Linked DNA regions of Homo sapiens. The protein of the gene in region 2 interacts with the protein of the main gene of each other region in a biochemical or structural test. Each region holds a gene or a part of one and is shown on either strand. Other genes may lie near its edges. The genes, in order: CTNNA2, DLG2, EFNB2, ABCC4, ABCC6, JAM3 and CD226.

Region 1 (3,500 bases), on a different chromosome or scaffold from region 2:
TGCATGAGATTACACTGAAAGAAAAACTTCTAGTTGGCAGGATTCTAGACACCAAACTGAAAATTACATGTCACGTGTTGATCAACTCTTATTTAGTCACGTTCTGTGATTTCTATTTAGAAGAACATACTTTTTTGTCTGATTTATTTATATTGAGATCTTAACCATCACTGTGATCTCTGTAGTTTCTACTTCCTTCTTTGGCAGTAACTATTCATTAATAGAACCACTAGCGTGCCTTAATGTAAAACCAAATTCCACATCCATGTAATTAGCCCTTTGCTATTTTGTTAACAACAACAACGAACAAACAAACAGCGTCTCAGATTTCATAAGCATTCTTCGTTGACACATCTGCTATTCAAAAGATTCACTCAGCTGGGAGACTGTGGGGTCAACATTTCTAGCTGCACCCTACGTAATACCATGGATCAAAATTACAGAAAGTGTTGGTCATCCAGGGTCCTATAGAGACGTCCTCATAAGCAGCTGGGTGCCACATGATGCATCCACATTTTATTCTTTGTGTGCTGAAAAAGGCCAAGTCTTCCAAAATCAAAGAATCTGAAGGTTCATGGAAAGGAAACAAATTTTGTTTTTTTTAGTTTGTTAGGTTTTCTCATTGACATCTTTTTGCTTTCTCAGTGAGTTCTCTGGAGGGTCAGCAGGAGGAGCACTGCTACTGTCAACACTCATTCCTTGCTTGCATGTCTGTTAGCTACATATTTTTACTCATGATGGGAGTGGTAAGATGCTGGAGGGAGAGACACTGAATGGCTGCTTTGTTTCAGCATTGCCTCGGGGTGTTCTAATAATACCTAACATGGACTTCAGTAGCTGTGAGCAGATTTTCAGTGTCTCTGTTACCCACCTGGTAGCTATACAGGGCATTCCTTCAAAATGTAATATCGAGACCTCACTTTATCTACATTTTTCCCCAATTTGTGCTAAATTATCTCAAACCCGAAAGTCCAGGAAAGGGGGAAGCACAGATCATCCACTGTTGCAAGCATCGCCTCTGCTGAATGAATGTAGCAAATCAATACAGCCATAATTTAGTGCCTTTCAAGGCAAAGAATATGAGTTTCATCACCTTCTTGCAGGTTACAGGTACACAGAAACTGTCACATTTTACAACTATAGGAGAGGATGGCTATTATGTGCCAAAATACAATTAGATACCAGTCATACATACCTATTTGAAAACTTAAGAGACTCACTCTTATAAGCAATTCCTGACTATGAATCAATAAAACACCTCCAAATTTTACTACATTTAGAACTTTTCCTTAAACAACCCTATCCACACGTTTTTTAAACCTAGTAGATTTATTAATGCCTCTTAGGGGTGAAGATTCGCATCTACAGCTATCCTTAGGTTTAAAAGTGCTCTTTGTAACAGAGGACTTACTATATCCTCAGCTGTTTCCATCAATCATCTACCTTTACCAATTGAAATCTTACCTACTTCAAAATGCAGCCACTAAAATGACCGAGAAGAAATCAGCCAAGTAAAAAGTGAAAGAGCTTATTCTCCATCCACCTGTTCCATATTAAAACAAACAAACAAAAAATGGATTCAGAAACAACACACACGACACGCGCTCTCCCAAAGCAGTTCTTTGGTTTCACCTGACTCTCTTTGGTAAACACCTGGTCTGTTCTCTTTTCCTGCTATCTATGCTTCCAAAAGAGCAACACGATTGCAGAACAGAATCCACCAAGACATGAGAATGGAGATCCCAAGACTTACATTATTCATGTACTCGCTGAGCAGGTCCTGGAGCGCCTGCCGCACGGCGTTGCACTCCGCCACGATCCTCTCGCGCCGGTCGTCTCGCGTGCAGGAGGAGTCGGCCATCAGCGCTGCGCCGCTGATGATGCTCTCCAGCCTCTCCTCCAGGGACGGCCGGAACCTGGCCTCGCTGAACGTCATGGGGTCCAGGATAATCTTATTCTGAAAGTATCACACACACACACACAAAAATCAGCAGAGAAGAGAGGTCTGCCTTGGCACCCTGTTTTGAAACCAGAAATATCTGAGGCAAGAACAGGAGTCCCCAAGGAGGAGAAACTGGTTACTCAAATTCTAAAGTTGCCTTGACAAAGTATTAACTTTTTCTAGATATTTTGTCCTAAATGTAATCTTCAGCTAAAAGAGCACATCTTATTTGAAGAATATGTTCTTGGCAAAGGCTATCTCAACGGAAGAGCTTTCAAATAAGATTAGGACACTTTTTTGGCATTTTTAAAATACGTAGCCTTTAAGGAAAGAACATTTCAGTGTAATGCTTTGGGGAATTATATAAAGATTTTAGAGCTAAAACATGATAAATAATCAACATCTTAATTATGCATTAGCTGTGGCTTGTATACACACACGTTAATCCTCCTCATGAGAAGCAGATATTCCCATGGCAGGATGCCTTTTGAAACTTGGGCACATAACACCCAACAGGCATATTCAGTACAGGTTAATTTATGCTAGTGTTCTAGAAAAGGATTCCTAATGTGTGTATGAGACTTGTCACAAATAACTGACAGTATCCTTATAAAGGTATTTACCTGTTTGGAAGGAGCCTATATAAGAGGAAAATAGTGATATTTCCTAAAAGGAAGGCGTCACATAGAACATGAGCTTAGCATTTCCCCAGCCAAGTTTTAGGAGCCTGGAAACATGTGGGCAGAGATGCCCCGAGGTAGATGGAAATATGCGTCCAAAATTCAGGAGCTATAACAGTCTTTATAGGGATCTGGTAAATGTCAGGGGTATTTGGACATAAACTAGTGAATTACATACTAGTAAAGTGAATAGAGCCAGAAGAGCAGGCCAGAGAAGACCCCTATACAGAAGGACCAGAATCAAAAAGGAAGACAGAAAGGGTAGTCAGAAAGATAGAAACAGAACTTGGAAAACTCCCAGCAAATGAGGAGGGTAGAGCGTGATGGTATGTGATCATTAACTGTGTGAAGTCTAGAAGCAAAGGTGACATTGACCAAAGGCTGGTTTCCTTTGGGGAGCCTTTTCTGCCTGAAGCAAAGAAGTTCATTCCACAATGATAAGGTAGAATGACCTGCTGCAGGAAATGGTGTGCTTCATTGGGGGTGCACTCTCAGAGGTCCAAGAACCAGAGTGGCAATGATGGGGCAAATGGTCTTCCAACTGTAGAATACTATGGTGCAATTGCCACTCTGTTACTGCTTCTTTTGACGTTCCTTATTCCTTATATATTCACCAAATTTAAAGAGTTGTAAGAAAAGAACAATTTACCATATTTACAAATACAATACGAAACATAAATGAGAATAGGTAGTTATTCTATTGCTAATCTGCACCTGCCGAAGACCTACTATATGCCTACTACTGTACTTAATGCTAAAAAGAAGGGGAGATAAAAGATGCTTTTATGGATTTTTTATGCTGATGTAGTATATACAATAACTGCTTAAGTTATTACAAAGTGAAGTCCAGCTGTATGCTCTGGGAAAGTTTGTTGTAA
Region 2 (3,336 bases):
ATTTTTCTGTATCCTTAATATCTTCTGGAATCCCACAGTTTGACACTGGGAAATTGATTTTTCCCCTCACATAGCTGTGAGCATCTTTAAAAATCTATCTTTTAATACATTGTTCACTTTTGGAAAAATCCCGATTAAAAGCAGGCAAGATGGTAACCAAATATTTAAGAATATGCAAAAACAGCACTTTCACTTCCTCTCAGCAGTGCCAATACTTCTCAGGGCATACCCACCCTAATTGCATTTTAGCTCTGGAATCAGAGACAAAATTGATAAAAATAGACATGAGTGATTCTATTCCTTATGAAATAAGACAAATTATGCTTTGGGAGAAAATCATTTGCCATAAAGTATAAAATGTTTTAATATTTATATCTTATAATAAAACCATGACATGTTTATAAACACTCTATCAGGCATTTTTACAATGGGGCCACCCACCGCTGACAACTAGAAACGCAATAAATATGCACAGACACACTGAGTATGAAATATACATCTTGATTTTATAATCGTGTGTGCTTTATTTTTTACACAAATGGAATGGAAGTGTTGAATATTTACACTTAACAGGAGTGTAAGCTGTGCAGTGTCTCTGTAAACTCCAGCCTAGGCAAGGAGTATTCCCACCTCCCTCCCATCCTGTGCTACAGCTCGGTGGAGAAACATCCTGTCAGAGAGAAGCACAAAACTGTCATATTGAAAGGATCTAACGGGTACAGCCTGGTGCACTCAGAAGTTAAGAAACACTTAGGAAACACAAACTCAAAAAGGAGAGAAGAAAAGTCTGCCATCCCATTGGGAGTCAACCTTGCCACTTGGTTGTCTGTCCTCATGAGTTGCTAGGGAGATACTATACTCTTTAGATGATCTTTGTCTAAATTGTCCGCCTGTCTTAGCTTTGTCCTCAGCTGTTACAAGAAACTGCACAGCTGTACAAGAAATGATTTCCAAAGCACAGGTTTCAGTGAGGAAGGATATTTACAGACTTGAGTGTGTGTGTGTGTTTCCAACCACAGTCATTCATACTCAATGTAACGTGTGTACATGGTATACATACCATATATACCATACATACACAGAAGTAAAATGTATATCACAGAATTCTGTAGGGAGTCCCCTGGCAAGTCAGCTGTCACAGGAGGTACTCCACATGCTTCAAGGGAATTGATCTTTTTCCCTCTAGGAGTAACAAATTAATGTGATCAACTTAGGAATTAGCCTGAGTCCTTGGCTTAAATATATTTGTAGGAATTTAGGCAGGACCAAGACAGGAAAGAAGAGATTTCATTTCACCAGCAAGTCCATTCAGTCTCACCAGAGCAATCACCAGCTGAAAAGCAGAGGGGGCTTCACATAAAAATGGGAAAAAGAAAGCTTATGAATGGGAAAAAAATGTCTCTCTCCAAACCAAGGTGATGGCATGGCTTCAATGAGGAGGAAGAGGTTTGCTATCAGAATAATTGGGGCCAGAGTCTGCCTTTATTGAAAGAAAATGTCCTCAGAGCCATGCGGTAGTGCTGGGAGTGGGCTCGCTTAGGAGCAGTGTTCAGGCAGAGGCACTCAGGCGCCGGCAGGGCCCACAGCACATGCATCATCGCTGCCAGGGCAACGGTGCAGGCTGGCTCCGGGAGGCGGGCTGGAGCAGGCTCCAGGTCAGGGCCTCACGCTCAGCTTTACTTTCTGGGCTGAGTAGGTGAAACGGCGACCTAAAGTATTTGTGTCATTAGTCCAGTGCATGGACTTGCTGTCTGAATCAGCCATGAGCCCTTTAGAGGACAGAAAAATCAATACAGGGATGTACGGGAGAAGATGATCAGAGATTTGAGGAGAGGAGAAAGGACAGAAGAGGAATAAGAAGGGCAGAGAAACAGAGACTAAAGGAGAGGTGGACAAAAAGAGAAAGGGAATAGAGAAGGATTATAGGAGAAAGTCAACAACTCAGAGATGGTGGGAAGGAGGAATAGGAAAAGGAGAGGAACAAAAAAAAAAAGAGATGGAATTAGTCGGAAGTAGAAGGAGGAGGAGAGTAAGGAAAAGAATGAGAAAAAAAGTAGAGTCTCGAGCCAGAGGTTGGAGAGTTCTTTCCTGGCTCGGAGTCCTGAAGGGCCGGCAGTAGGATCTAAGACAGCGCACAGAGGCACCCGAGTGCAGCTTTGTGAAGACAGGCTCTTTAAGCAGACAGAGCCAACCCAAGAATTTGGGGCTGGGAAAAAAGGCCTGCAAATAAATAGCCAAGAAATCCCGCAAAAGGCCTGCAAATAAATGGCCGACAATTCTGTGGGAGGAGAGCAAAAAACAAATGCCTCTGCACTTAGCTGACAAATGGAATTTTGATTTTGGTAAAGCTGAGACCCCCGTGGTGCTACACATTGTACCAGAGCATGAAAAATAGCACCAGTTACACGATCTGGCACTTTTCTGAAAGGGCCCAGCATGTGTGAAGGTGACATTGCACCCCCAGCAAGCCTTCAGGTTGGAGAGAGCTCTGGACAAAGTTTGCAGTGTTAGCACCAGTCTGGCCCCAGGCTCCGAGTGCATTTGCACCAGATGTAATCTGGGTAACTTTCATGCCATTTCCATACAAGTCATCAGATTTGCTGCAAAATACACCAGTTCATTGGAGCCATAGAGACATCAACATTGGGAAGTGCAAGACAACACAACAAATGGAGGTGTAAATTCTATTGGAAAAGACCCTCTCACCAATTTGCTTGGTGATTCTTCAAGCAAATATATATGTATCTATATATTTATATAAATCTACATAAAAAAATCAGTGCAAATGCCAATTCTAATCTGAAAGCATCTACACTAGGAAAATAAATAGTTATATTACTACAAAACCAAGGGTTGGTGGTTCAATTTGATTGTACTTAGCCACAGCAACACTAGTAAATGGAAAGCACATCACACGACCCGCGAAAACATCTACTCATTAATGACAGTCTTTTAAATAAATGGTTGCATGCTCAGTTGAGAAACCAAAGAAGTTATCGTGGTGGCCTAAAAATAGAGCTGGGATCAGGAATGGCATTCTGGTGTCAGAAAACTTCTGGGAGCAATATTGATGAAAGTAGGCCTTGACCTGAAACTGGCGAATTGCAGACATGGACATATCTTTAACATTTTGAGCAATCTAAGGAAGTCTCTGGAAATTTAACTTTCATGAGAGGGAGAATGCATTGCTAGCCCTTCCATTGGCAAAGGAAGCCTCAGGACTATGGGAAGATGCATAATTTTGCATTTCTGTTTTGTTTTGGTGACTGTAGCCAGGCAGACAATGATGTTTAGCGTAAGATGAACAATGCCTGTTTTTGGAAAGAGACTCTCATT
Region 3 (3,500 bases), on a different chromosome or scaffold from region 2:
GATGGAATATTGCTGCAGACGATAAATTTGCACAACGACCAAGCAAGCACACAACAATCCTAATACAAAACTGCTGATGTCTGCTCAACAGCTACTCTATAAAACCTTCATTAGCATGGTAACAAATACAGAACTATTTGTTCCAAGACTGTTAAGAAAACGAAGGTCAACGACGGACAATTTTATCTGGTATTCTACACTTTTGTCAGGGACCTGTTTAATATTTTCTTTTACATGGAAAATGTGAAACAAAATAACGATAACCACCTGAAAAAATACTATTATGCAATATTTAAAAATGTTACCATTTAAAATTTAGAAGAGGATCAATTAAACCCTCTGTGGCTTAGATATAATTAGATGAGGGATTAGCACATTAATTACATATACATTAACATCAGCTTTAAGCTGGAGTTGACAACCAGCTTGATAAAATGTCAGCCAATGAAACCTTTGGCCTGACAGAGTAGTTCTAATAACTGGCACTTACAGCTCATGAACTCTACTCCTTTGAATATATGACTTTCATTGGAATGAGTTATTTTGTTCTTATTGAGTGTAATTAATAATGACTCACTGACAGCAAAGATTCCTGATCACTGTAACTTCCAGCTAATCCTAACTGGTTAGAAGTCTTTAGACTCTGCCCTACCTTTTAAGATACTACTAAGAATGTGGTACCCACAGACCTCCATACACACAGATCATGCTGTTATACCTGGATTTGGTTTTACAAAGGGACTTGTTGTCGAACTTCTTCCATTTGTACCAGCTTCTAGTTCTGGACGTCTTGTTGGATCTTTATTCCTGGTTGATCCAGCAGAACTTGCATCTATATGAAAAACAAATGATTAATTACGGCACAGACATCTGACAATATCTAGCTTTAGGAGCTGCATATATATTTCAACAGGCATGAATAGCAATGAACATAAGAGTCTTTATGCAAAGTACTGTGAAATACAAGAATATAATTTTTCTTTTAAAACAAAATGGTTATACTAGTTATTTCAGAGGTTTAGAACGTGAGGCCATCTGTGGAAACTATAGGGATTCTTGCATTTGGCAGGCAAAGCATTGCAGATGACATTTCAATTTAACTGAGCAAGTTGATTGACTACTATACCAATTTTTAATTAGAAGAATAATTATTTCTTTCTGCACAATAGGTTATCTATATTGGAAAAGTCACAATGAACAAAACTCTTCTGTAGTCAAGATTCAGAAATGAGCAAAACTGCACAAGCTTTTAGTTTTCATTCTGGATATTTTGATTTTGAACCAAAGTGTTTTGCTTTTTAAAAAGAAATATCTATCTATCTATCTATCTATCTATTATCTATCTATCTATCTATCTATCTATGGCAATAGACATTCTACCTTGCTGATCTTAACTCTTAGATCTCCAATAAAAGCTTAGTACATTGACTTGAGGAAATCTGTCAGTGGCTCAAAGTGCAGAAGGGTTTGCTTTGAAAACTAAAAAGAAGAGCGAATGAAGGTGGGCATCGGCAACATTAGCACCATACTAGCTGGGGGCTACACCAGGTCACAGTGGCGTCATGAAGCAGCAGATGGTCTTTACCTTGTCCAACTTTCATGAGGATCTTCATGGCTCTTGTCTGGCACACCCCTCCCTCCTGGTTATCCAGGCCCTCCAAAGACCCATTTGATGTAGCTGATTAAAAATAAAATGGACAAAACAAAAAAATAAAGAAAAATCAGGAAATCAATAAGCCAAGTTTACATGAACATGAAATGTCTGAAAACAATTTGAAAAATAAGAATTCACTCTTAGTCACAAGTTTTCTGAAAGTATGGGGATGCTGAAAGCCAAAAAGAAAAAGAAAAAGAAATAAAGAGAAATGGATATCGGAAACACTGCCGCACGTATGCTATCTGACTCCAAATTTATTTAGGCACTTTCTCCTTCCTTCACAAATGACTGATTTAATGTTAGTCTATAAATAAAAGGGATGGCATCCTTCAAAAAGTCTATGGACTCTTTTGGGGCCAAACTCAGAAGAGCAAAATAGTTAATGCAGCCATTTCCAAACGTGGTAATCATCCCCCCACACCTGCTTCCTCCACTGCAGATTTCCTGCTTCAAGAACAATTAGCTTGACGCTCTGTTTGTCAAGCATCCAAGTTCTGTAAACACTAGACCAGGAGCCTCCCACAACCCTTGTCTTCTTTTTTCAGCCTTATGCATGCTTAAGAAGTATACCAGAAATCAGGTCTTCAAAATCTCCCCTTTTTCCTCCATCGTTTTGTAAATCAGAAGAACATACGTGTTATTACTGCCAATGTCAACCTTAGTCAACCTCTTCAACCAAACTACCTGTTGCGGGAAAACTCTGGCTGAATAGAGGGTTCACACACATGCCCACCACTCATTCTGGGTCCTGTGGCAGCCCTGGAGAGAAAGTGGGGACTTTTACCAGCCACTTGCTGGTGTTCACCAACTGAATTCCCTCTCCACCTCAGCAGTGAGGAGTGGAAGGAAGGACAGAATCATTTTACCATTTTCAGCATTTTTTTTTTCAACAGCCTATGCTCTATTTAAACACATCCTTGTTCTGTCTCTTTAGACCAGCGAGGTCTCTGAATAGCTTTGTAACTCAAGCTGTAAAGAGATAGGCTGCCAGGTACTTTAATGAGAAACAGGCTTTGAATTACAGTTCAAGTTCCAGGAGAGAAAAGAAGGTGGAGAGTGCTAGACATTTTCATTCCCCTAAAGTTCAAGGGGCAAGGAACAAAAGTGTTTCATATACATTTCTGCAATTTAAATCCATTTTCTACCTGATTATCAAAGTCTTGGCTTGTAACACTGTACTTTGCAAGGGACTGAAAAAAGGATTGATTTTCTGGTAAAAATAAATCCCAAAGACATTCTTCTAATGGGATTGTTTGTTTTCCAAACAGTAGGTCAGCAAACAAGTTCTATATGCATTTATGGTAGAAATATGCATTCCACTGAAATTATATTAACTACAAAAATAAGGCACTTATTTACTTGTCTTTGTGGTCTTGAATTAACTTTACTTTCACTGTTTTCCTCAAAACAAAGACTGCCTCTTCTGTGCATACATATCACTGTGCTTCTCTGAGTGCTTGCTTAAACTTTACAGTCTCACAATTGCATCTCATTCTTCTGTAACTGTGGATAAATTTTTCCCGGGAAACTGGGCAATAATTGCCATAATAATACTTGTCTTGGAAGGGTAGTAAGAAGCAGACAGTATCTGTTTGTAGATACAAACATTGTAGACCATTAAGAAACTATTCAGCAGACAGCTTAAAAAAAAAAAAACCTAAAAATTTTGTACACTTCTGTGAATCTAAAAAAAATCTTTTTAATTATTTAATGGGGCTATTAAAATTTTTTTTTATTATACTTTAAGTTCTAGGGTACATGTGCACAACGTGCAGGTTTGTTACATATGTATACGTGTGCCATGTTGGTGGGCTGCGCCTGTTAACTCGTCATTTACATTAGG
Region 4 (3,500 bases), on a different chromosome or scaffold from region 2:
ACACTTGTGGCCAAGTTAATCTAGCAACCACAGTGTTGATTAGTGGATCTGCCACAACCTAGAGGACATTCCTAGGACCCATCCTTTCTAGCATTCAGACTACGAAAGTGTTCCAAGAACTTTCAACAGCAACAATGAGCTGCTAAACGTTAGCATCTACAAAATGAATTTGCATAGGGATAGAAGAGCAGTTACATGGGGACAAGCCCTGCGGACTGTGAGGTCAATTGGCCATGTGTCCAATATAGCTCAACTGCATGTATCACTGATGATGCCCAAATTGACATAAACTTCCTGACCACATTGGCCAACATGATGAAACTCCATCTCTACTAAAATACAAGTATTAGCTGGGTGTGGTGGCGCGTGCCTGTAATCCCAGCTACTCGGGAGGCTGAGGCACGAGAATTGCTTGAACCAGAAGGTGGAGGTTGCAGTGAGCCAAGATCATACCACTGCACGCCAGCCTGGGCAACACAGTGAAACTCCATTTAAAGAAATAATAATAATAAGATAAACTTCTCCATGAGCCCCAAACTCATGACCAATTGAATGCCTATTCAACATCTCCACTTGAATGTGTAGCAGGCATCTCAAACTTAACAGGGTCAAAAATAAACTCCTGTCCAGGCACCATGGCGCATGCCTGTAATCCCAGCACTTTTGGAGGCTAGGGCGGGAGGATCACTTGAGCCCAGGAGTTCAATACCAGCCAGGGCAACATGGCAAAACTTCATCTCTACAAAAAATATAAAAAATTAGCTGGGCATGCTGGCACACACCTGTGGTCCCAGCTACTCAGGGGGCTGAGGTGGAAGGATGGCTTGAGCCCAGGAGGTGAAAGTTGCAGTGAACTGAGATCGCACCACTGCAATCCAGCCTGGGTGACAGAGTGACACCCTGTCTCAAACAAAGAAACAAAGATTTAATGTGGCCATGATAGCTGTCTTTGAATACTATGAGGCGAGCATATGAAGGGAGGTAGCCAACTTGCTCTGCGTGTTGACAAAAAAACAAAGGAGAGCGGCTCTGAACCTATTTTGGTTCTAGGAGCTGCTTGATTCACAGATCATTCTTTGCTTCATTAAATTCTGTAATGCTTTTCTTAGAAGTAAGTAAACACAAGTAGAAATTGCATGGAAAGAAAACTGTGGCTCAATACAACATAATTCTGGCATTCGAATCTAAAGTCATGAGAGTCACATAATGCATTTCCCCACTGCCCAGTATCTGGAAGGGATTCCTGTACTGAGTGTGGGCTAGAAGATCTCTTCCTTTCAACCCACTAATTCTATGACACTAAGGAAAAGGGGAAGATAGGAGCTAGCGCAGAGAAAAGAGCAGACAGGGACTAGGCCTGAAACAGACCAGCACGGAAGTGGTCATGGAACCCAGAAATGGAACAAGGAGCTACGTCGCAGGCCACAAAAGGGCTGTAAGTACTCATGAGTAAGGGGCTGGAAGTGGGAGAAGCAAAGTCTGAACATCTGCTGGGATGAAAGAGGGGAGGGCAACCTTGGGTGTAACAAACGCTACCGGCTGGCAGGGACGACATAGCGACTGAGGGGTGGTCATTCGCCACACGTCTCAGGCAACACTTTCTCCAACTGCAGTTCTGTGACCTGGACATCTCATCCCCTGCCAGGAACGATTTCCCACCTTCTCCATCCAAGCTCCAACAGGAAGGTAAACCCCTCCCCAGAGATCTCCATCTTGGCCAACATGGCAAAACCCTGTCTCTAACAACAACAAAAAAATTAGCCAGGCCTGGTGGTGCACATCTGTAATCCCAGCTACTTGGGAGGCTGCGGCAGGAGAATCGCTTGAGCCCGGGAGGCGGAGGTTGTAGTGAGCCGAGATCATGCCACTGCACTCCAGCCTGTGCGACAGAGACTCCATCTCAAAAAACAAAAACAAAAACAAAATCCCCACCCTCACACAGCTTTTCCATACTTCTACTCCAGCACACCCAACACGGGTTCAGGATGAACTCCTGCAGCAGCGACTGCTGGACACACGGACTATGTTTTTTTGAGATGGAGTCTCGCTCTGTTGCCCAGGCTGGAGTGCAGTGGCGTGATCTTGGCTCACTGCAACTTCTGCCTCCCGGGTTCAAGCAATTCTCCTGCCTCAGCCTCTCGAGTAGCTGGGACTACAGGTGCATGCCACCACGCCCAGCTAATTTTTGTATTTTTAGTAGAGACGGGGTTTCATTACGTTGGCCAGGCTGGTCTTGAACTCCTGACCTTGTGATCCACCTGCCTCGGCCTCCCAAAGTGCTGGGATTACAGGCATAAGCCACCGCACCCAGCCTGGACTACGTTTTCTTTTGCTTTTTTTTTTTTTTGAGACAGAGTCTCATTCTGTAGCCCAGGCTGGAGTGCAGTGGTGCAATCTTGGCTCACTGCAGCCTCCACCTCCTGGGTTAAAGCGATTCTCCTGCTCGGTCTCCCAAGTAGCTGGGATTACAGGCATGTGCCACCATGAAAGAAGGCAGGGTGCCTTCTTTCTTGCCAGGTGCAAATCCATTACAATAAAGTACCATTCCTGTTCTCAAAGAGCTCACACAATGAGGGAGGCAGCCACTGTATCGTGCAAATAATGCTAGCTATTAAACAAGCCCTGATTCTCAATGGCTTAATTCAAAATCACCAGCCGAGGCAGTGGATCACATGAAGTCAGGAGTTGGAGACCAGCCTGGCCAACACAGCAAAACCCCTTCTCTACTAAAAATACAAAATAAATAAATAAATAAAAAATTATCCGGGCGTGGTTTTGAGCTCCTGTAATCCCAGATACTTGGGAGGAGGCTAAGGCAAGAGAATCGCTTGAACCCGGGAGGCAGAGGTTGCAGTGAGCCGAGATCACGCCACTGCACTCTAGCCTGCAAGACAGAGATAGACTCCGTCTCAAAAAAGAAAACAAGAAACCAAGACCATGCCTATTGTCATGCTATAGTCCCCTTTTGGGCCATCTAGGGTGGTGAACAACACCATACATTTACTCCTAGCTGGACTTTCACCATCTTGCGGCTCGGCCTCCTCTCAGTCCTCCTCCTCTCCAGGAGGCCTCTTTATTCAGCTGGAGAGGCGTTGCATGGGGCTGGTTTTTGTGTTCCAGTCGTGGAAGCGAGACACCTTTTGCAACCACTTCCTATTGGCCAGGTCTCAGTTTCATGGTCACCTCTGACCACAAGGTTGGGGTAGAAAACATAGTCCAGGCTGGGCATGGCGGCTCACGCCTGTAATCCCAGCACTTTGGGAGGCCCAGGTGGGTGGATCACCCGAGGTCAGGAGTTCAAGACCAGCCTGGACAACATGTTGAAACCCCATCTCTCCTAAAAGTACAAAAAATTAGCTGAGCATGGTGGCGCACATCTGTAGTCCCAGCTATTTGGGAGGCTGAGACAGGAGAATCGCTTGAACTCCGGAGGCAGAGGTTGCAATGAGCCGAGATCACGCCACTGCACTCCAGCTTGGGCAACAAGAGTGAAACTCCAT
Region 5 (3,500 bases), on a different chromosome or scaffold from region 2:
GATGGAGTGCAGTGGTGCAATATCGGCTCACTGCAACCTTCGCCTCCCTGGCTCAAGCGTTCTTCCCACCTCAGCCTCCCAAGTAACTAGGACTACAGGTGCATGCCACCATACCTGGCTAATACTGTTGTCCACAGAGATAGGGTCTTGCTATGTTGCCCAGACTAGTCTCGAACTCCTGGGCTCAAGCAATCCTCCTCTCTCAGCCTCCTGAAGTGCTGGGATTACAGGCATGAGCCACTGTGCCCAGTCCACACTTGACATTTACCAAAAAAAAAAATCCTATATTATAGTCCCAGTGAGTGGTGAGGTTACCACCCGATATCAAACAATATTTTCATAGCAAAATAAATACTGAGCAAGAGCAATAAAGGCTATCAGTAGCCCTGTGTCAGTTGAGGTTGGGTTTTGCCACCAAGTAAATATAGAAGACTAACTGCTAATTTAGGGGGGAAAACCTTGGTATTCAGAGACTGTGTCAGAGCTTGGAATTGCAGATAAGAGACATGTGGTTATTAATGTAACAGAGTGATAATCCTATCGGGGGAGGCATTTCCTGAAGGCCCTTGGGGAGGGCATGGCCATCCCCTCCTCTCCCACCTGCAGGTCCCAGCCATGGTGGGACGACCATACCTCAGGTCCTCGCCTCGGTCAGCACACTTGTACTGCAGCTGGCCGGGCAGGCTGGCCACCAAGGCTTTGAGCTGCACCGTCTCCAGGGCTGCCCAGATAGCCTCGTCCGAGTGCTCCTGCAGCAGGTCGAGGTTCATCCGCAGAGAGCCAGGGAACAGGATGGGGTCCTGGCGGGGAGGGGCGGTGGGTCAGAGCCGGGTCCCACCATGCCTCCCATCTTTGCCCACCCCCTCCACCAGCCTCACCTGGGGGATGATGCTGATCCTGGAGCGCAGTGTGTGCAGCCCCACGTGGGCAATGGGGACCCCGTCGATCCAGATCCCACCCTCAGCTGCCTCCTGGAGCCGCAGCAGCCCACTGGCCAGGGAGGACTTCCCTGCCCCGGTCCTGCCAACGATGCCCACCTGCCCGGGGTTGGGAGGAAAGGCCTGCTCTGACCAGAGGGTTTGTGGGCATTTATTGGGGAGATCTTTCTGCTGTACCCGAGATCTGTCTATCCATCCCTCATTGTGTAAAGGTCTACCTTCCATCTCTCTTTCCATCTGTCTACCTTTCTATATATCCACCCATCAATCCATCCAGTCTTCCATCTGTGTTCTTCTCTATCTTTCCCTTATCCTGATATCTCTCTCCCATCTTTCTCCCCACCCTTCCTTTAGTTCCTCCATCTTTCCTCATCCTTCTATTTACACCTCTCCATCATCTCTCATCCTTTTTTCTACCCCATCCCATCCATCTGTCTGTCCGTCCATCCATCCCTTATCCTTTTTTCCACCCCATCCTGCCATCCATCCATCCATCATCCATCCTCAATCCCATCCCTCCATCTCTCTTCCACCCCATTCCATTCATCCATCCATTCATCTGTCTATCCGTCTCTCGTTTCTTCTTCCCTATTCATCCATCAATTCACTAATCCTTTCATTCATTTATTTTCTCCCATCCATCCATCCAGTCCATCCTTCCCTCATCCATCCTTCCATTCATCCTCCATCTTATCCATGTGTCCATTCTGTTATCCATCTCCCATGCTGTTATCCACCCTCCATCCTTATCTCTCTTGCTACTATTGCATCCTCAGTGTCTGACACATGGTGTGGGTTCAACATTATTTGTTTAATTAATGATGGAAACATGTGGGTCACCCCACTGTATGCCAAGTACCTGTTTAGGCACCGGAAGTATAGAAATTAAAGAGTCCTTGCTCCAGTGTGCCCATCATCCGGTCTAGGAAACAGTGCAATTGAGTAAATGTAATACAGTGTGATGAACAATGCTTTATTTATTTATTTATTTATTTATTTTTGAGATAAAGTCTTGCTCTATTGCCCAGGCTGGAGTGCAGTGGTGCGATCTCAGCTCACTGCAACCTCCACCTCCCAGGTTCAAGCAATTCTCCTGCCTCAGCCTCCCTAGTAGCTGGGACTGCAGGTGCCTGTCACCATGCTCGGCTAATTTTTGTATTTTTAGTAGACACGGGATTTCACCATGTTGGCCAGGCTGGTCTCAAACTTCTGGCCTCAAGTGATCTGCCCACCTTGGCCTCCTAAAGTGCTGGGATTACAGGTATAAGCCACAGCACCCAGCCAACAATGCTGTTTATTATCAAGGTCTGGACCTCTGGCAATTAAGGGAAGCAAGGCAGTGCTGCTCATGCTGCCTGGGATTTGACAGAGGTAATAAGAGAAGACCTCATGGAGGAAGGGATACTTGCATGGAAGCTTGAAGGATCAATAGGAGTTCAAGGAAGGGGAACACTCCAGGTAAACCACACCAAGTGGGTTTCCAAAACTAGAAGCTCATGGAGCTCACAGCACCATGTGCCCCCCTGGCCGAGAGGCAGCTGCTCCACAATGTTGGCTAAGCCCTGGCAGAGCAATGAATGAGAGGGGGAGGTTGGCAGGGCCTGGGTTGGGTAGAGCCTTGAATGCCAAGCTCAGGAATTCACACTTTACCCCAAGGGAAGCTGGAACTAGTAGAAGGTTTTGAGCAGGGGAATGACATGCAGTGTCATTCATGCTGATAAAGGTCACAGGATGGCTGGGCATGGTGGGTCATGCCTGTAGTCCCAGCACTTTGGGAGGCCGAGGGGGGTGATTGAGGTCAGAAGTTTCATAGCAGCCTGGCCAACATGGTGAAACCCTGTCTCTACTAAAAATACAAAAATTAGCCGGGTGTGGTGGCAGGTGCCTGTAATCCCAGCTACTCAGGAGGCTGAGGCAGGAGAATCACTTGAATCTGGGAGGCGGAGGTTGCAGTGATCTAAGGTCACACCACTGCACTCCAGCCTGGGCAACAGAGTGAGACTCTGTCTCAAAAAAAAAAAAAAAAAAAAATCACAGGAGAGCAGATTGGAGCTGGTGAGACAGGATCCACTGCTTTTTAGGGGACAAGGAGAGGACAGGGAGGAAGCCTCTGTAGGTTCAGAGGGAGGGAGGAAAGGGATTCAGTGAAGGGGCCTGATGAGGCATCTGTAAAATGGGATAGTACTAGCACCTCACTTAGGGGTTGTTGTGAGAGTGAAAACGCAAATAATAAAAGCATTAGTAAACATTTCTGGAGCACTTTCTATGAGCTAAGCATGTTCTATGTATTAACTCAAACTTCACAACAACTCAGAGATCAGTATTACCAGTCCCAATTTACAGATGGGAAAACTGAGACTGAGCTATGAAGTGCTTTTCCCAATGTCTCCCAGCTGAAAGCAAATATCCCATTTGTGCAAACTGGAAAATGTACCTGGAGCATTTAACACACTGCCCAGCACATATTAGGTGCTGGGTTAATGTTAAAGGAAGAAGGAAGTCACGGAGTTGCTTCCTCATCTGGGGACACCAAGGTGGATGAGGAAGTCACCAGATGGAAGC
Region 6 (3,984 bases), about 51 Mb from region 2:
GACCTGGAACATAAAGAAGATTTATGAAAGGAAAGACAGAATCATAGTAGGTAATTGAGTTATTTTTTAATTTTTATTCTGTCTTTATAAGATTTTTGAGAAGGTAATCAATTAACATAAAGATCTGAGCAGTTATAAAGATTTACAAAGAAGATTATACAGTGATGGAAACTGAAGCATATTCTTGGCAACAATCTCAATCTATTTCACGTTTCCCGGCTTTTACATATATAAATTTGGTATACATAATATGTAAATATACTTCTATTTTGCATGAAAACTAAAAATACTAAAAAAGTAGCATGAGTATATGAAAAAGTTAAACATTAAAAATATTAGTTGGAAACTGGCTTATTTTACTAACAATTATATTCAGAATTCTGTTGCTAGACTGCTGTTTCTGGGAACATTGGAGGTGTACTTTCTATACTTGCTAAAATACAAGCTTTTCAAGTATTTTCCATAGTATTAAGTGAGACTTTAAATACTCTTGCTTTTTTAGATCTAATTTCTGCTTTAATTTATCCTTCTCTTCATTTTTCCTGTTTGTCCTCATCTTACCTGTTCTTCCCTGGTTTTACTATCTCCCAGTATTCAGAAATCAGAGCAAATAATTAGTCTGCTTTTCTGCAGAATAAACTATTGGGTATGCCATCATGCTTTTGATCTACCACATAAACAAATTATTTTAGCAAGACATCACTTTTATATGCTGTATAATGTATGTATTGCTTATGTTTTAAGCAGATTTCAGCTCTTTTCCTTCCATCAATTTGGAATTGGGGGCCCAAAAGATGTGAAGGCGATAATGCTTCCAAGATAACTGGGCTGCATCCTTATTTGTAAAATAAGAAATACTTTATTTCCCAAATTTTAAAGGAGTGTTCCTTCTCCGACCTGTTGTGATGGATTTATTCTATAGCTATGGAAATATACCCTGCTTCACTCTTGTACATACTTCTTTACTCTCCTCCCGCCAAGTTCATTGAAAGAGAACCCATGTGCCGGTCCAGAGCATCGCTGCATCCGTAAGCAGCTAGACCTCAGCTTCCTCTGTCACCATGGTGCCGGCTCGGCTGGGCCCGGCGGTCGCCATGGTAACTGGGGCGGGTCGCAGGGTCCTGGCAGGCTGGGCGCATGCGCGCGGGGACTACAAGCCGCGCCGCGCTGCCGCTGGCCCCTCAGCAACCCTCGACATGGCGCTGAGGCGGCCACCGCGACTCCGGCTCTGCGCTCGGCTGCCTGACTTCTTCCTGCTGCTGCTTTTCAGGGGTGAGTTTGCGCGTTTCCGCTGTTGGGAGACTAGGGTCTGGGGGCGACGGAAGCAGAGCGGGCCGAAGCTGCTGGAGCCGGTCCGGGCGAGGATAGCGGTCCTGGCTCCGAGGGCTCCCGGGGTCCCGGGCCGGAGGGGCGGCGCGCGCCCGCGTCCCCGCAGCCAGGGCTGGGACTCGGGCCTGGCTAGGGCGGGGGCCCTGGGACGCCCGGCAGTTGGACCGGGGCGGGGAGCTAATTTGGGATGGGGGGCCCGTCCCAGGCAGTGAGTCGGTCCCGGACAGCCGTCGGACCCCGGGGGCGGGCTCTTCTCGGGCGGGGTCCTGTGCTGGGCGGTGGGCTCATCCCCCGGGTGGGCTCCTCCCAGGCGGGGTCCTGTGCTGGGCGGTGGGCTCATCCCCCGGGTGGGCTCCTCCCAGGCGGGGTCCTGTGCTGGGCGGTGGGCTCGTCCCCGGGGTGGACCCCTCCCGGGCGGTGGGCACGGCCCTCTGGAGGGAGCGCGGCAGCTGCGGCGTGGGCGCTGGAACTTGCTGGAAGACCCTGCGCAGCAGTGCTGTGCTCTCCAGAAGGGACGGTGAGCGGGGGACGTAGCTGAGGACCGGCGAGGCAGAGCTCCGAGGCCTGGCGGGCTGCTTGGTCACAGCCCTCTGGGGATCTGCAGTTCATTTGACTCGACACAAAGGAACTGCTTTTCTTTTACAGAAATAAAATGGATATCAATCCAGTACCTTTTTTGTCTCTGGCCTGGCCGAGGAGACCACGCAGACTCTTATCCGGAAATAGCATTCGGGGCATTTGATCAAGACACACTAATAAACTTGATAGTTTTGTGCATTTTCTTTCCCTCTGTTTGGAATTCTCATTAGATCCACATTTTCCTGGACAGTTGTACAGAGGACTAAAATAGCTTTCCTTTAGTGAGCTTGTACTGTCTACTAGGCACTTTGGAGCCATTATCTCGTTTACTCCTTTCAGCAGCTCTGTGAGATAGGTTTCATTAATCCATTTTCAGAGTCAAGTCTAGTCTGCTTTCCAAGGCTGCATTCTAAGTAGTGAAGCCTCAACTTCATATTTACCTAAAGCAGGACACCACACTCTTCCCCTGGCAGCCATCCGCAGGTAACCAGACCAGGACCTTTTTCGGTTCTTAGATTATTTTATTGTTTGAATTGCCACTGTCATCCCATGATGTTTTCCAGAATATACAAATTAAAACACGGAGGGACTGTTTAGGAGTGAAGGTGGACAGATTTTGGAAAACAAAGCATTCCTGTGTTTGGTGCTTTATGCTAATGGGATGCTCGTGATGGGCTGTGACAAAAGATGAGTTTTAGCGTATAGATTATGTACGCTAAGGCAAAGTCTGTATACTTTGCCTGAAAGTGATTCCCAAAACCAAATGCTGTTGGGAGATAAGTGATCAAAGGCTAGCCAGGGGACAAGGGTGTCAGGAATGTCCAGCACCCGCTGTGTTGGTCACACTGACACTGTCCTATTCACAGCCTGGAACAACTCTCTATTGTTGAAAAGATCTGTTCACGTGAAAGTTTGCAGTTTTTGTTGCAGAAGCATTTGGCAGTTTAGCTCAGGAATGAATTTCAACTTGGTAGTTTGTTAATAAAACTAGAAAATGCAAAGAGCTTCACTTACCCTTAACCTCTGATTTCCTTCCCCTAAGGGACTAGTTTTGTGGCTTTTTTGCTGGTAGGGGCTGGGATTCACATGCAGAGCGTAGGAGGAAGAATCAAATTTTGCAAACTAGTTCTAATGACAAATAATCGAGGTAGTAGGATGTATGAATCCACTTTGAAGGCGTGTAGCTATCTTTTTTTTAGTAGGGGCTCTTTTTCCATTATTTGGTTTATGCTTTAAGCTACCCTAAAACTGTTCTTCCAGAAGTCATGACTACTGTGTCCTTTTTATTTTTTATGATTATTCTCAATTGCTATTACTATTTATTTTCATCTTAAAAATTTTGGTTCTTGATATAACAGCAAACATTTCTTTTGTGGTTACCCTTTGCCAGGCTCTGTTACAAGAATTTAATGTTTGCTAATTTATTTAATCTTGATAACTCTAAGAAGTCGTTACTATTGTTGTGCCCTTTTGTGGATGAGGGAACAGAAGTATGGAGAGATTCAGACCCTTGTCGGGAGTGTTATCCTGTGCGTTTTAAATGGGAAATCCTTCATTATTTGTGTTAATCCAATTTTTAGTTATTTGTATTATTCCATTTGACGGTGGAGTTCTTTTAATGGATCAGTTTAAACAGATTATCAAGTTTTCAACACTATGTGGTTTGTATATAAAATATTCTTTTGTTGACTCATGACAGGTGCAGTTCAGCTTTACAAATGTTATGCCACATGGCTTTTTTGAATGATTGTGTACTCATTAGTGTTAGGTTTCCAAATCTTTGATATTCTAGAGAGAAGTGCCTTATTTAGAATTAAAACAGCAACAGTTTTCATTCTTCAGATAAGACAACTTGTGTGCTGAAGCATATCAAAATCTGAAAATCAAAATTTCTGGGAAATTTTTGAAAAAATGTTTAATTCTTTTATTTGCATCTGTTTGGACTCCAGTAACGTTTTTTAGAATGGCATATTCTTTTATGTTCTAATTCTTAATTATCTGGCAGATATAATCATTGTCAGACTTGTGTGTATGTTTTAAAAAAAACAAAGAACACCTGTCTTGAAAGCATGCAGT
Region 7 (3,500 bases), on a different chromosome or scaffold from region 2:
TCTGGAGCCCTTAATATTAAAGGAATCTCTTTAGTGCCACTAACCAGCAGATATATACAAGAATGAAAGAAAACTTTGGCTGCTATGTCAGCTGCTGGGAACCTGGACAGAGAACACTTGTCCCTGAAGGGTGTAGAGATAAGAGCCTTCTAAGAATGAGCATGGATGGCATATAAGGAGCCTCATCCCACCTGGGAGAGAATGAGACTCTTAAAGGGAAACAGTGAGGAACATCTCTGTGCCCAGTTTGAGATAAATGGACTGGAATATGGGAGATCACAGAGTCAGCAAACATACAATACAGCCAACACAAAGTACCTGCATGTGTGGAGCAAGAAAATCTAACCCTCTACTATAAATATGAGTTCTATGTGTCTTCTGCTCTCACATCAATAATTCACCTGTTCACTTTCCTCTCCCTCCCAACTCTCCCCCTCTTTTCTCTATGCCCTCTACATTCTTTAACATGAACACCTTCTTTAACACACTACAATGTGACCATCCTCCAAGCCACAAGCTATGACCTTAGACTTCTGCCCCCATCCATTGGTACTTTCTTAGTTAACCCCATCCATCCACATGTGCTGGATGATCATTCAGATGACTTCAAATTGGATATTTTCAATCCTGGTTTGTTGTTCCATAATTTCAATTGTCAGCTGGTCAAAGGCTACTTTACAATTTAATACACCTGAAACAGACTTAATTCCACTCTTGCTAGCCAAGTTGGTCTCTTAATTTCACATCTTTTTCACTAAAATCATCATTTTTTAGTCCTTGGATCATAAAAATTTGAAACCATTGCTGAAACTTACCTCTACCTGGCCCCCAGGCCATATCAGAATGAAGATTTCATCCTTACCTTAGAGCTTTCAACTGCTCAAAAATTGCAATCACATCTCTTTTCACCATTAGAAATCAGTAGATTTGGCCAGGCAAGGTGGCCTATGCCTGTAATTCCAGCACTTTGGGAGGCCAAGGTGGGGTGGATCACCTGAGGTCAGGAGTTTGAGATCAGCCTGGCCAACATGGCAAAACCCCCATCTCTACAAAAATACAAAAATTAGCTGGGTGTGATGATGCAGGCCTGTAATCCCAGCTACTCAGGAGGCTGAGGCAGGAGAACCACTTGAACCCAGGAGGCAGAGGTTGCAATGAGCTGAGATCATGCCACTGCACTCCAGCCTGGGCAACAGAGTGAGACTCTGTCTCAAAAAAGGAAAAGAAAAAGAAATCAGTAGATTTGAAAGAAATCTTCTAAAACATTTTGAGACAAATGCAAAATAAAACACCTGTATAAGGAAAACACCCTGACTATGAGCCTTAAAGACCCTTTCAGCCCTTCCTGATTCTATTCTATCCCCCACCTACCATGTTTCTGAACTTTGCTTTTCTTTATAGTTTTACCACGTTTGTATCTATAAATAACGTATTGTTTAATTATGCATATTTCTAAAACCTTTAAAGAAAAGGAACCCTAGTTTACCTATTTTTTTTGGTAACTTGCTCTTTTCTTTCAACACAAAGTTCATGAGCTTCATCCATGTCGGTGAGCAAGTGATAATTCACTCATTTTAGTGATGTAGAGTATCCTAATGTGTGAATAGACCTCAGTGTGCTTTTCGGTTCTACTGTTGATGGGTATTTGGGTTGTTACCAATTTTTTGCTATTGCAATCACTGTTGCTATAAATATTGTCAGGAATTTTCCCTATAATGAGAGAACTCTTGGATACCAAACAGAGTAGAATTATTGGATCATAGGATTTGGGGTTTTTAACTAGCTAATGCCATATCATTTTCCAAAACAGGTATGATGGTTAATTTTACGTGTCAATTTGAAGGGTGTTTTGGGATGAGATTAACATTTAAATTGGTGAATTTTGAATAAGCAGTTTGCCTCCATAATGTAGGTGAGCCTAATTCAACAAAAAGACCAGCCTCCCCAAGCAAGAGGGATTCTGCAGCAGATGACCTGGGCTTCACCTGTACCATCGGCTCTCCTGGGTCTGCAGCCTGCAAGCCCACACTGCAAATTTGGGCTTATCAGTCTCCATGATCATATGATATAATTTGGCCGTGTGCCCACCCAAATCTCATCTTGAGTTGTAGTTCCCATAACCCTCACGTGTCGTGGGAGAGACCAGGTGGAGATAACTGAATCATGGGGGTGGTTTCCCCCATCCTGTTCTCATGATAGTGAGTTAGTTCTCATGAGATCTGATGGTTTTATAAGGGGCTTCCCCTGCTCTGGGCACTCACTCTTCTTCTCCCTGCTACCATGTGAAGGACATATTTGCTTCCCCTTCCACCATGATTGTAAGTTTCCTGAGGCCTCCCCACCCATACTGAACTGAGAATCAATTAAACCTCTTTCCTTTATAAATTACCCTGTCTCAGGTATGTCTTTATTAGCAGCATGAAAACTGAGTAATACAGTAAATGAGTACAGCAGAGAGTGGAGGGTTGCTGTAAAGATATCCACAAGTGTGAAAGCAACTTTGGAACTGGGTAACAGGTAGAGGTTGGAACAGTTTTGAGGGCTCAGAAGAAGACAGGAAAATGTGGGAAATTTGGGAACTTCCTAGAAATTTGTTGAATGACATTGACCAAAATGCTGACAGTGATATAAACAATGAAGTCCAGGCTGAGGTGGTCTCAGATGGAGATGAGGAACTTTTTGGGAAATGGAGTAAAGGTCACTCTTGCTATGCAAAGAGTTTGGTGGCATTTTGCCCCTGCCCCAGAGATCTGTGGAACTTTGAACTTGAGAGAGATAATTTAGGGTATCTGGCAGAAGAAACTTCTAAGGGGCAAAGCATTCAAGAGGAAGCAGAGCATAAAAAATTTGGAAAATTTGCAGCCTGATGATGCGACAGAAAAGAAAAACATTTTCTGGGAAGAAATTCCAGCCAGCTGCAGAAATTTGCATAAGTAATGAGGAGCCAAATGTAAATCACCAAGACAATGGGGAAAATGTCTCCAAGGCATGTCAGAGACCTTCATGGCAGCCCCTTCCATCATAAGCCTAGGAGGGAAAAGTGATTTCCTGGGCCAAGCCTAAGACCCCCTGCTCTATGCAGCCTCGGGACTGCATATGGTGCCCTATGTCCCAGCCACGGCTAAAAGGGGCCAACATACAGCTCAGGCTGTTGCTTCAGAGGGTGCAAGCCCCAAGCCTTGACAGCTTACACGTGGTGTTGGGCCTGCGGGTGCACAGAAGTCAAGAACTGTGGTTTGAGAACCTCTGCCTAGACTTCAGAAAATGTACAGAAACACCTGGGTGTCCATTCAGAAGTTGCTGCAAGGGCAGAGCCCTCATGGAAGACCTCTGCTAGGGCACTGCAGCAGGGAAATGTGGGGTTGGAGCCCCCACACAGAATCCCCACTGGGGCACTGTCTAGTAGAGCTGTGAGAAGAGGGCCACCATCCTTCAGACCCCACAATCTGAATCTGATCCACAGACGGCTTGCACCATGCAACTGGAGAAGCCACAGACAC

What was found.
Region 1: the proteins of DLG2 (region 2) and CTNNA2 interact in a test that uses a peptide from one of them, tested with the Homo sapiens proteins (one large-scale study listed by IntAct).
Region 3: the proteins of DLG2 (region 2) and EFNB2 interact in a test that uses a peptide from one of them, tested with the Homo sapiens proteins (one large-scale study listed by IntAct).
Region 4: the proteins of DLG2 (region 2) and ABCC4 interact in a test that uses a peptide from one of them, tested with the Homo sapiens proteins (one large-scale study listed by IntAct).
Region 5: the proteins of DLG2 (region 2) and ABCC6 interact in a test that uses a peptide from one of them, tested with the Homo sapiens proteins (one large-scale study listed by IntAct).
Region 6: the proteins of DLG2 (region 2) and JAM3 interact in a test that uses a peptide from one of them, tested with the Homo sapiens proteins (one large-scale study listed by IntAct).
Region 7: the proteins of DLG2 (region 2) and CD226 interact in a test that uses a peptide from one of them, tested with the Homo sapiens proteins (one large-scale study listed by IntAct).

Annotation. Positions count from the first base shown.
Region 1 is NC_000002.12:79,908,051-79,911,550, reverse strand, and holds part of CTNNA2 (catenin alpha-2), read right to left. Parts: intron 1,958-3,500; coding exon 1,754-1,957; intron 1-1,753. UniProt on the Homo sapiens protein: May function as a linker between cadherin adhesion receptors and the cytoskeleton to regulate cell-cell adhesion and differentiation in the nervous system. Required for proper regulation of cortical neuronal migration and neurite growth.
Region 2 is NC_000011.10:83,454,673-83,458,008, forward strand, and holds the end of DLG2 (disks large homolog 2), read right to left. Parts: 3' UTR 501-3,336; downstream 1-500. UniProt on the Homo sapiens protein: Required for perception of chronic pain through NMDA receptor signaling. Regulates surface expression of NMDA receptors in dorsal horn neurons of the spinal cord.
Region 3 is NC_000013.11:106,494,163-106,497,662, forward strand, and holds part of EFNB2 (ephrin-B2 isoform 1 precursor), read right to left. Parts: intron 1,679-3,500; coding exon 1,586-1,678; intron 833-1,585; coding exon 719-832; intron 1-718. UniProt on the Homo sapiens protein: Cell surface transmembrane ligand for Eph receptors, a family of receptor tyrosine kinases which are crucial for migration, repulsion and adhesion during neuronal, vascular and epithelial development.
Region 4 is NC_000013.11:95,291,452-95,294,951, forward strand, and holds part of ABCC4 (ATP-binding cassette sub-family C member 4), read right to left. Parts: intron 1-3,500. UniProt on the Homo sapiens protein: ATP-dependent transporter of the ATP-binding cassette (ABC) family that actively extrudes physiological compounds and xenobiotics from cells.
Region 5 is NC_000016.10:16,153,995-16,157,494, forward strand, and holds part of ABCC6 (ATP-binding cassette sub-family C member 6), read right to left. Parts: intron 1,861-3,500; exon of another isoform or gene 1,798-1,860; intron 1,038-1,797; coding exon 879-1,037; intron 801-878; coding exon 634-800; intron 1-633.
Region 6 is NC_000011.10:134,067,888-134,071,871, forward strand, and holds the start of JAM3 (junctional adhesion molecule C isoform 1 precursor), read left to right. Parts: upstream 1-1,184; 5' UTR 1,185-1,196; coding exon 1,197-1,272; intron 1,273-3,984. UniProt on the Homo sapiens protein: Junctional adhesion protein that mediates heterotypic cell-cell interactions with its cognate receptor JAM2 to regulate different cellular processes. Plays a role in homing and mobilization of hematopoietic stem and progenitor cells within the bone marrow.
Region 7 is NC_000018.10:69,937,874-69,941,373, forward strand, and holds part of CD226 (CD226 antigen isoform a precursor), read right to left. Parts: intron 1-3,500.